2 separate regions of the Homo sapiens genome follow, and region 1 is linked to region 2. The links come from fine-mapping of genetic effects on gene expression. Tissue or cell type: whole blood. Region 2 holds a variant in brackets; the other region holds the start of a gene. All regions are shown on one strand. Distances are from middle to middle.

What was found. PIP is the estimated chance that this variant, and not a neighbour inherited with it, causes the effect.
Region 1: it holds the start of MINPP1, and the variant in region 2 is fine-mapped to the expression of MINPP1 in whole blood (INTERVAL, PIP 0.99).

The regions. Positions count from the first base shown.
Region 1 is chr10:87,502,573-87,506,572 of GRCh38, reverse strand. It overlaps MINPP1 (multiple inositol-polyphosphate phosphatase 1), which reads right to left and starts at 1,680. Exons shown (of 5, transcript NM_004897.5): 1 at 1,021-1,680. The coding sequence starts at 1,657. It overlaps MIR4678 (microRNA 4678), which reads right to left and starts at 2,692; the gene lies at 2,619-2,692. It overlaps LOC112268064 (a long non-coding RNA gene), which reads left to right and starts at 1,739. Exons shown (of 2, transcript XR_002957094.2): 1 at 1,739-2,238. RefSeq lists enhancers at 1,401-1,460, 1,621-1,710.
Region 2 is chr10:87,534,357-87,538,695 of GRCh38, reverse strand. The region is part of intron 4 of MINPP1 (multiple inositol-polyphosphate phosphatase 1); the gene reads right to left. Among named protein-coding and RNA genes, the nearest start is that of MINPP1, 32 kb to the right of the region's middle. RefSeq lists a silencer at 1,407-1,456. The variant G/A (reference allele first, on the strand shown) is at 2,283.

The DNA.
Region 1 (4,000 bases), 32 kb after region 2:
TGGGTCCACAGCTAGCTGTATGAAAATGGGCAAATTATTTAATGTGTTCGTGTATCAATTTCCTCATCTTTGAGATAAGGGGAAAATACTATCAACTCCAGATTGTGGTTGTAAGGATTTTGTAAAATAAATGTGAGGCATACCTGGCATACAATAGGCATGAGGTGTATGCTATCATTATTATTTGTAACTATTACAACATTTTCTAAGAGAAAAAGAACCATTCTAGGAAAACAGAAGACTTGGATACTAGACCTTAGAGAAAGACAATTAAGAAGGCATACTCTTGGGCTCGGGTTCTTCACCTGTGAAATAACGGGGCCTTACTAGATGATTTCTCAAATTTCGAAAAAGTGTAATTAATGGAATAAATGAGTTGTTACTGCTTGTGACCACGGACCACAGCTACAACGATGGGAACGCTACAGTAAAAACATGAACAAAACAGAAGAAAAAAGGAGGACACAAAGGCTTGAGATCAGGTTCCTAAAACAGGGTGTAGGTCTAAAACTGTCATCTGAAAAAGATGATGAGTTTAAAAAAAAAAAAAAAGAAAGAAGGAAAAACTAGTATCGGAAGCAAAGCCCGAGGAAGAAAATTCTAGATTCTGTTTTTTAAAACGTGCGCCCAATTGTGAAACTAGACGCCAGGGAAGGGGGAAGGGATGGGTTGGCGCTCGAAGGGGCAATTCAGTTTGGGAACGGGAGCGCAAAAATTGCGGGAGACCTCGTCTGTCCCCTTTCCTGTTGGATCCCCAACTCTACTAAAGCAGGCAGCGAGTACAAGGTGCTGAATTTACACCTGATGAATTAATAAATGAACATACGTGTAAGGGGAAAAAGAGATAGCCAAGTCTGTAATATCCCTCGACAGGGAGGACGTAGCCCGAGGGATGATGGCTTGGGAAAAGAGGAAAGAGAACTGGGGGGCATCGGAAAAGCCCAGGGTCTGGGGGAGGCGGGAGAGCATCCAGGGCGGGTGGGAGGACCGGGACAGCACACGGGCCGCCCGGGGGGTCACCTGCGACGTCCGGCGGCGGCAAGCCAGGGTGGTAGTGCTGCCACAGCCCCTGCAGGAAGGCGGCGCTGCTATCCATGCAGCGGTGCTTGGAACTGGTGATGAGCCGCAGGCGGCCGTAGTTCTCACGGCTGAAAAGGGCCGGGAAGAGCGAGGCCAGACGCAGCGCCAGCTGTCGCATATCCTGCCGTCCCTTCTCTACTAGCTGCCCGTCCATCCAGTCCGCGTACCACAAAGGCCAGTCGGCCAGCGCTGCACCCAGGTCGCGGCTGCCGGTACTACTAGCCCCGCCATCCCTGGACCCGCGGGCCTGCAGCAACCCGTGCAGCTGCCTCAGCTTGCGGATCTGTTTGACCGTGGGGTAGCGGGTGCCGTGGCGAATGAGGGCGACCAGCTGCACCGGGGTGCAGGTCCCCTCCAGCAGCTCAGGGTCCCGCCACGGAGCCTCGGGGCCCGACAATAGCACGGGGTTGACATCCTCGTAGCGAGTCTTGGTGCCGAAATAGGGGCTGAGCGACGAGGCCACCGGGTCCCTCGGCTCTAGAAGAGAGCAGCGCGCAAGCGACGAGAGCAGCGCCGCAGCCAGGGCCGCGGCAGGCGCTACGGAGGTCCGGAGGAGGCAGCCGGGCGCGCGTAGCATCGTCGGGACGGTCAGTGGAGTGCGCCGAGCCAGCTGCAGATGCCCAGCTTCCGGCTCCGGAGGGCAGGGGGCGGGTCTGGAGGGCGCTTCCGGCCGGCGGCCCTCGGGATGCGCTTCGCTGTTCTCTAGGAGGTACCAACCTCTGGCGGTGGGTCTTGCGTCCCGGCGGAAAGCTCCGAGGAGTCCTGTAGACTTGTGGCTCGGGTGGAGCCGGCGGAAAACCCCGAGAAGCTTGAGACAGCCGTGGCTGAGGTGGAGCCGGCGTCGCTGCCCTGGAGCGTGGGCGAGTTTCCTCTTAGCCGGAGCTTCAGGGATTGACTCAAAGACTCCTCCGCTTTTTTAGTTGTTTTGGGTGTGAATACAGCCCGGACTAAACCTTAGTCGCCTAGACTAAACCTTAGCCTCCCAGGCTGCCAAAACAGCACAGCTTTTACAGATGACTCTTACATCACCATCCCTACTCTGTGATACTGTGTTTTTCAAAGTTTAGTGCCTGAACCATCAGCATGAAATCTGCCTGAGACGGTTGTTGAAAATTCACATCGCTGGGCCTTGCGGCAGGATGCCTCTTGAAGCCCAAGGTTTTTGTTTCGTTTTTTTCCATTTGAGTTTGAAAATAAACAGGATACAGTAAAGCAGAGAACTTGGAAAGGGGCTTACATTCTGCAGGAATTTAAGTCCTGAATCTTTGGTATAATCTTGACCTGGACTACCAGAGCTAACGCCGACATCAGTGAGACAGCACCCTAAAAGTTCTGTGCTTGTTGTTCCCGAAGGCTTAGCGAGTAGAGACATAGCAATCTAGAGAATTTGGGTGCATTGAGTCATGGCCCAACAGATTTACTCTATTATTAAGTATGAGCTAATCTGCTTTGCGAAGCAAACATGCTCTGTATTTACCACCACTCCAGATCCATACGTTCCTCCCATGTACTTACTTACATACTCAAATCAAAAGCTGGGTTTTTTAATAGGTTATTGCTCAGAATCTTTGACCCCAAAAATCATAAGTCTGAACAATACCTTGTTTTTTCCCACTTGAACTCCAGTTTATTTGCCAGCTGGGGAAATAATAAGTATTACAGAAGTCGTACGGTGATCCAGATTTAAGGAAATTGGGACCACGTTTTCATTAAGTTAGCTTTTGCTTCAAAGACACTATTACATTGCTCTTTATAAGCCCATCACCATCTTTACTCCTTTTCTCTTTAAGTGTCTCCTTGGTTTAGAGAGGTGTTCCTCTAAGTTTAGGCGTGCCTCTAAATGTTAACCAAGAAGAAACGGGGCCAGCCTATGAATGCTGAAAATTTGGAGACGTTCTGTGCAGGAAACCATCTTTAGGGCAACAGATGTTCTTTTCGATATGCTATTTTGTAGCATGTCAATGCCTGAATATTCATGGTCAGTGATATTTTTGTAGAACTTTGCTCAAATTAGCATTTAGTAAATATCCGCTCCTTCTTAAAATAGACATTCTAACCCGTATGCTCTATAGGCTGAGTCGCCTGATAATATTTCTAAGTGCATTCAGCGAGCATTTGTTCCAGGTTCATCTCACTGTATTTTGCCTAATACATATGCTTACTAATAACTTCTCACACCCAATCTTTTGAGTCCTAGGGGTTACCAAGTGTTCCCAAAGTCATTATTCACTTCTTCCTTATGAAGCAATCTTTAGAGACTCCACTTACAAAATGTATGGCACAGTACACATTTTTATACATGAAATTTGCCCCTAGTTTGATTTTATTTTCCTTATCTAATTCCTCATCAATTAATTTTATCCTGTTTTATACACTTAGGTATATCAGCTCCTAATTATTTTGATGTTATGCCAAGATAACAATGATAAAGTAAAAGTAAGCAATGCCTCCATGTTTTTGGCTAGGAAAAAGCCAAATATAAAGAAGACGAAGAGTGCTTAAGCTTTGGACCCAGACTCTAATTAGCTCTGCTGCTTATTAATTGAGTGACCCAAGTTCTCTGGGCCTTAGTTTTTTTTTTTTATCTGAAAATTGGTAATATTAGAACCTATATCATGGGATTATCATGACAGAGATGATGTATTTAAAATCCATATGATAGGCCGCTATAAATGATATTTTTATCATTACTAATGTTCAGTGTGATTATTCCTGTGCTAAGATGCCTAGCTTTCTAGCAATTACATGGATTACACTTACTCCCACTGAACATTAAAGTGAATGACTTTCACAGGCAACACATGCATCAAAGATCATTTCATAACTTTTCTAATAATAAAAATCCACTCATTTCACTTAAAATGGATATCTTGTTCTTAGAGCACTAAGCAGCCTTTGAAAAAATTTAAAAAGGTCACAG
Region 2 (4,339 bases):
AAAATTACCAGAAAAAAATTTGTTGTTAAGTCTTCCACATCTAATTGAAACATCAGTTCCAGTGAGTATTTGGAGAAGCACCAATCCAACAGCTTAACATAAATCAAGAACTAAAATGACTCAAGTATGACATTTTTCTTCCTCAAGCAAAAATACACTGAAACAGTTTCCACTTCCAGTCAAGACGGAGTAATAGGGACCAGATTTACTGTCCTACCTTAAAGTACCAGAAAGCTGAACAAAACATACAAAGTTTCAGACACTCAACAATAGTTATAAGAAAAGGAAGGCAAAGGAGGTGACTCCAACAACTGCCCCAGCTTACTGCCGAGTTTCCAGACTATGGCACAGGGAGGGGATGCCCAAACAGCTCGGGAAGTCGCCCTGAGCAGCTGAGATGGGAGTGAGAATTTAGGGAGGCCACACTGGCTGAATTCACAGCAGGAGTACCTGAGAAGAGAGTGCTGCAGACCAGCAGGGGCTCCCTCAAATTTTCAGCTGGCACTGAACAGCACATGCGTATGAGAAAACTATCCAAATCCCGGAGAAAAAACATTGAAAAGGAATAGGTAAAAAAAAAAAAAAAATTAGCAGAGCTAATTACAGATTACTCCTATCTATAATCCCAGTGACTCCAGAAGCAGAGGGGAAGGACTGCTTGAGCCCACCAGGAGACCAGCCTGGGCAACACAGTGAGAAAAAAATAAAAATAAATAAATAAATAAAAATAAGTTCCATGTATTAAAAATTTTTTAAGGATTAGCCAGGCATGGTGGTATATGCATGTAGTCGCAGCTACTTGGGAAGCTGAGGTGGGAGGATTGCCTGAGCCTGGGAGGTTGAGGCTGTAGTGAGCTATGATCGCACCACTGTTCTCTGGCCTGGGTAACAGAGTGAGACCCCGTCTAAAAAAAGAAAAAAAATTCCCAAAGCTAACACAAAAAAACAGAATAGTTTTCACATAAGCCAGAGTGGGAAAACCTCAAAATACACAGGGTACATATAAATACTCAGGGTGAAATGCCTCAATAATGGGGCAAAATCAGTCCATTAATATATATATATTTTTTAAGAAAGGCAAACCATAGACTAAGAGAATATATTCCTATAGAGCATAAATCTGACAAAGGACTTGTACCTAGACAACACACACACACACACACACACACACACACACACACACAAACAGTAATAAAGATAACCCAATTAAAAAGCACACAAAATAAAGACTTCACCAAACTAGATATATAGATGTAAATAAGCACATGAAAAGATGCTCAGTATCACTAATCATTATGAAAATGCAAACTAAAACCACAACAAAGTACTACTACACACCCATTAGAATGGTTAAAATTAAAAAGACCTGCCATATGAAGCGTTGGCAGGATGTGGAACAACTGAAACTCTCATACATTGGTGGGAAAAGTTTGGCAGTTTCTTAAAAAGTGAAAAAGACGGCCGGGCACGGTGGCTCATGCCTGTAATCCCAGCACTTTGGGAGGCTGAGGTGGGTGGATTATCTGAGGTCAGGAGTTCGAGACCAGTCTGGCCAACATGATGAAACCCCATCTCTACTAAAAATACAAAAATTATCTGGGCGTGGTGGCACATGCCTGTAATCCCAGCTTCTTGGGAGGCTGAGCCAGGAGAACTGCTTGAGCCCACGAGACAGAGGCTGAAGTGAGCCAAGATCGTGCCGCTGCACTCTAGCCTGGCCAACAGAGTAAGACTCTGTCTCAAAAAAAAAAAAGTGAAAAATACACCTACTTAAGACTCAACCATTCCATCTAATTAGGTAGGTTCCCAAGAAATCAAATCATAACATACAAAGATCACAAATATTCAGAAGCATTATTTGCAATAGCCTTAAAACTGTGAATAACCAAATGTTCATCAAAAGGTGAACAAATGGTGGTGGATCTATGTAACAGAATACTACTTGGTCTTAAAAAGGAATGAACTATTAGATTCATCAGCAACACAGATGAATCTTACAATCACTATGTTGAGTGAAAGAAGCCCAACAAAAAAAAATTCACTATGATTCCATTATATAAAATCCTAGAAAATACAACTTAATGTATAGTGACAGAAAGTGTATCAGTGTTACCTGAAAATGGGGGTAGAAAGTGAATTAGAAAGGGTCACAAAGAAACTTGGATGTGATGGATATTTTATCTTGATTATGGTGATGGTTTCATGGGCGTATATATATATGTAAAAACTGACCAAATTGTACACTTTAAATATGTACAGTTTACATGAATTATACCTCAATC[G/A]AGTTATTAAAAAACACATCAAAACAATTACTAAGAGCTGATATGCTGAGATTAGTGAAAGAAAAGTCTTTGGTAGCCTACTTCAAAGACTCCTCATAAAGCCTTTACCAAACCCCAAAGAGTTCAAATTAATTCTCTCTCAGTAATTTTGTTTTTATCTGTTTTAGTGCTATTATAAGTGTTCTCTAAACTTTGAGTTTGGAGACAATTTCAATGCATTCATCTTTGTATATACCCTCTGTTGCCAGCCAAATAACCTGAACATAGTGGGTTATCAAAGATAACCTGGAAAACGCTGTATATTTATTTCAATAGATTTGTCCAAATATTCTTGAAAAATAACAATAGACTTTACTTGTCTATGTTCTAATTAAGGAGAGAGATGTTTAAGTGTAAACCTCAGAATACATGGAACTTATTTAAAATTAACACAAATAACTAAAGCAGAAATAGGAACAATCTTAATTTATTTATTTATTTATTTAGAGACAGGGTCTTGCTCTGTTGCCCAAGCTGGAGTACAGTGGCATGATCACGGCTCACCCTAGACTCGAGCTCCCTGGCTCAGGTGATCCTCCCACCTCAGCCTCGTGAGTAGCTGGGACTACAGGCACATGCCACCACGCCTGGCTAATTTTTTTTTTCTTTTGTAGAGGTAGGGATTACCCCTGTTGCCCACGCTGGTCTCAAACTCCTGGGCTCAAGCGATCCTCCTGCCTTGGCCTCCCAAAGTGCTGGGATTACAGGTCTGAGCCACCACGCCAGGCCAGGAAAATTTTTAAATCAGCATCTAGATGACAGGTAAAGTATACTGTTTTTCTCTGGCATAGATAACACCCTAACAGCTTATTTCCCAACACTGTCTAACTCAAACCATCAAATTAACTTGGGCATTTTACATTTTCATTCCCACATAGGCCTTTGCTCAATACTCTTCTTCCTTGATGTCTTCCTTATTCTTCTCTAGCCAAATTTTGCCTGGAATGATTGTCATGATGGTATTAATAACAATTAATAAAATACTTAATTGTGTAAAGCATAGTAGTAAAAGATAAATGTGTCTTTACATGTATTTGTGTGGTACACAGACATACATGAACACAGAACTCCACTCAACCTTCTCAACACCTTGAAACATGAGTATTACCTGAATTTTAAAGATGACAAAATTTTGGTTAGGAAACGCTGAACAAGGATTTGAGTTTTAATAATCCTATGCCAATGCAAATTCCATTACACTACAGTGTCAATGATTAAGGCTCACCTTACATCTTACATCCACACAGAAGCCATTTCCAACTACCATGAACTGCAGAGATGACTTACTTTCCCAAGCATCCTTTCGCTTTTGACTAAATTACTTTCTTAAGACATCTTCCTTACTAGACTGAGAGCCCCTTGGATGTAGCGGGTATAACTTCTTATCCATGTTTATGTATTCCCAATGCCTAGCATTGTGACCACACATTGTATGTGCTCAAAAACTGCTTGCTGAATTGAAATGAACTGAGCCTTTAGTTATGGAGCCATGAAATAATTTCCTAACCTCTTAGGTGGTAGAAGCATTTCTTCCATAGAATCTCTGACACAGTTATCCAGATTCAACTAGCATATTTCTAAAATAGGACACTTACTACTTCACAAAACAGCCTATTCTACTTATTTAACAGTTATTAAAAAGTTGTGGGGTTTTGTGTGTGTGAGGTTTCTTTTTTTAAAATAGTAACTGAAACAAGATTTGCCTTCCGGTTCTACTGTTGGGGTCAGCACAGAGTAGGTATACTCTCCAACTATGACAAGAATAGATATGACAACAGATTTAAGAGTGATTCTTACAAAACTGGATACAATTCAACAAGAATAGTTTTAAAAAAAAATGTACAAAGGTAAAATAATTGTGCAGAAATAATGAATAACTACTTAGTAGACCTACAATCTAGTGATAGTCAAAAAGTGTCTATTCAAAAGGCAGCTGGACATTTGAATATGAATTCAGAGTACAGCCAGGCTAGTTATATAAACTTTTACTTATTAATATTTAGCCAGTATGTGGCCGG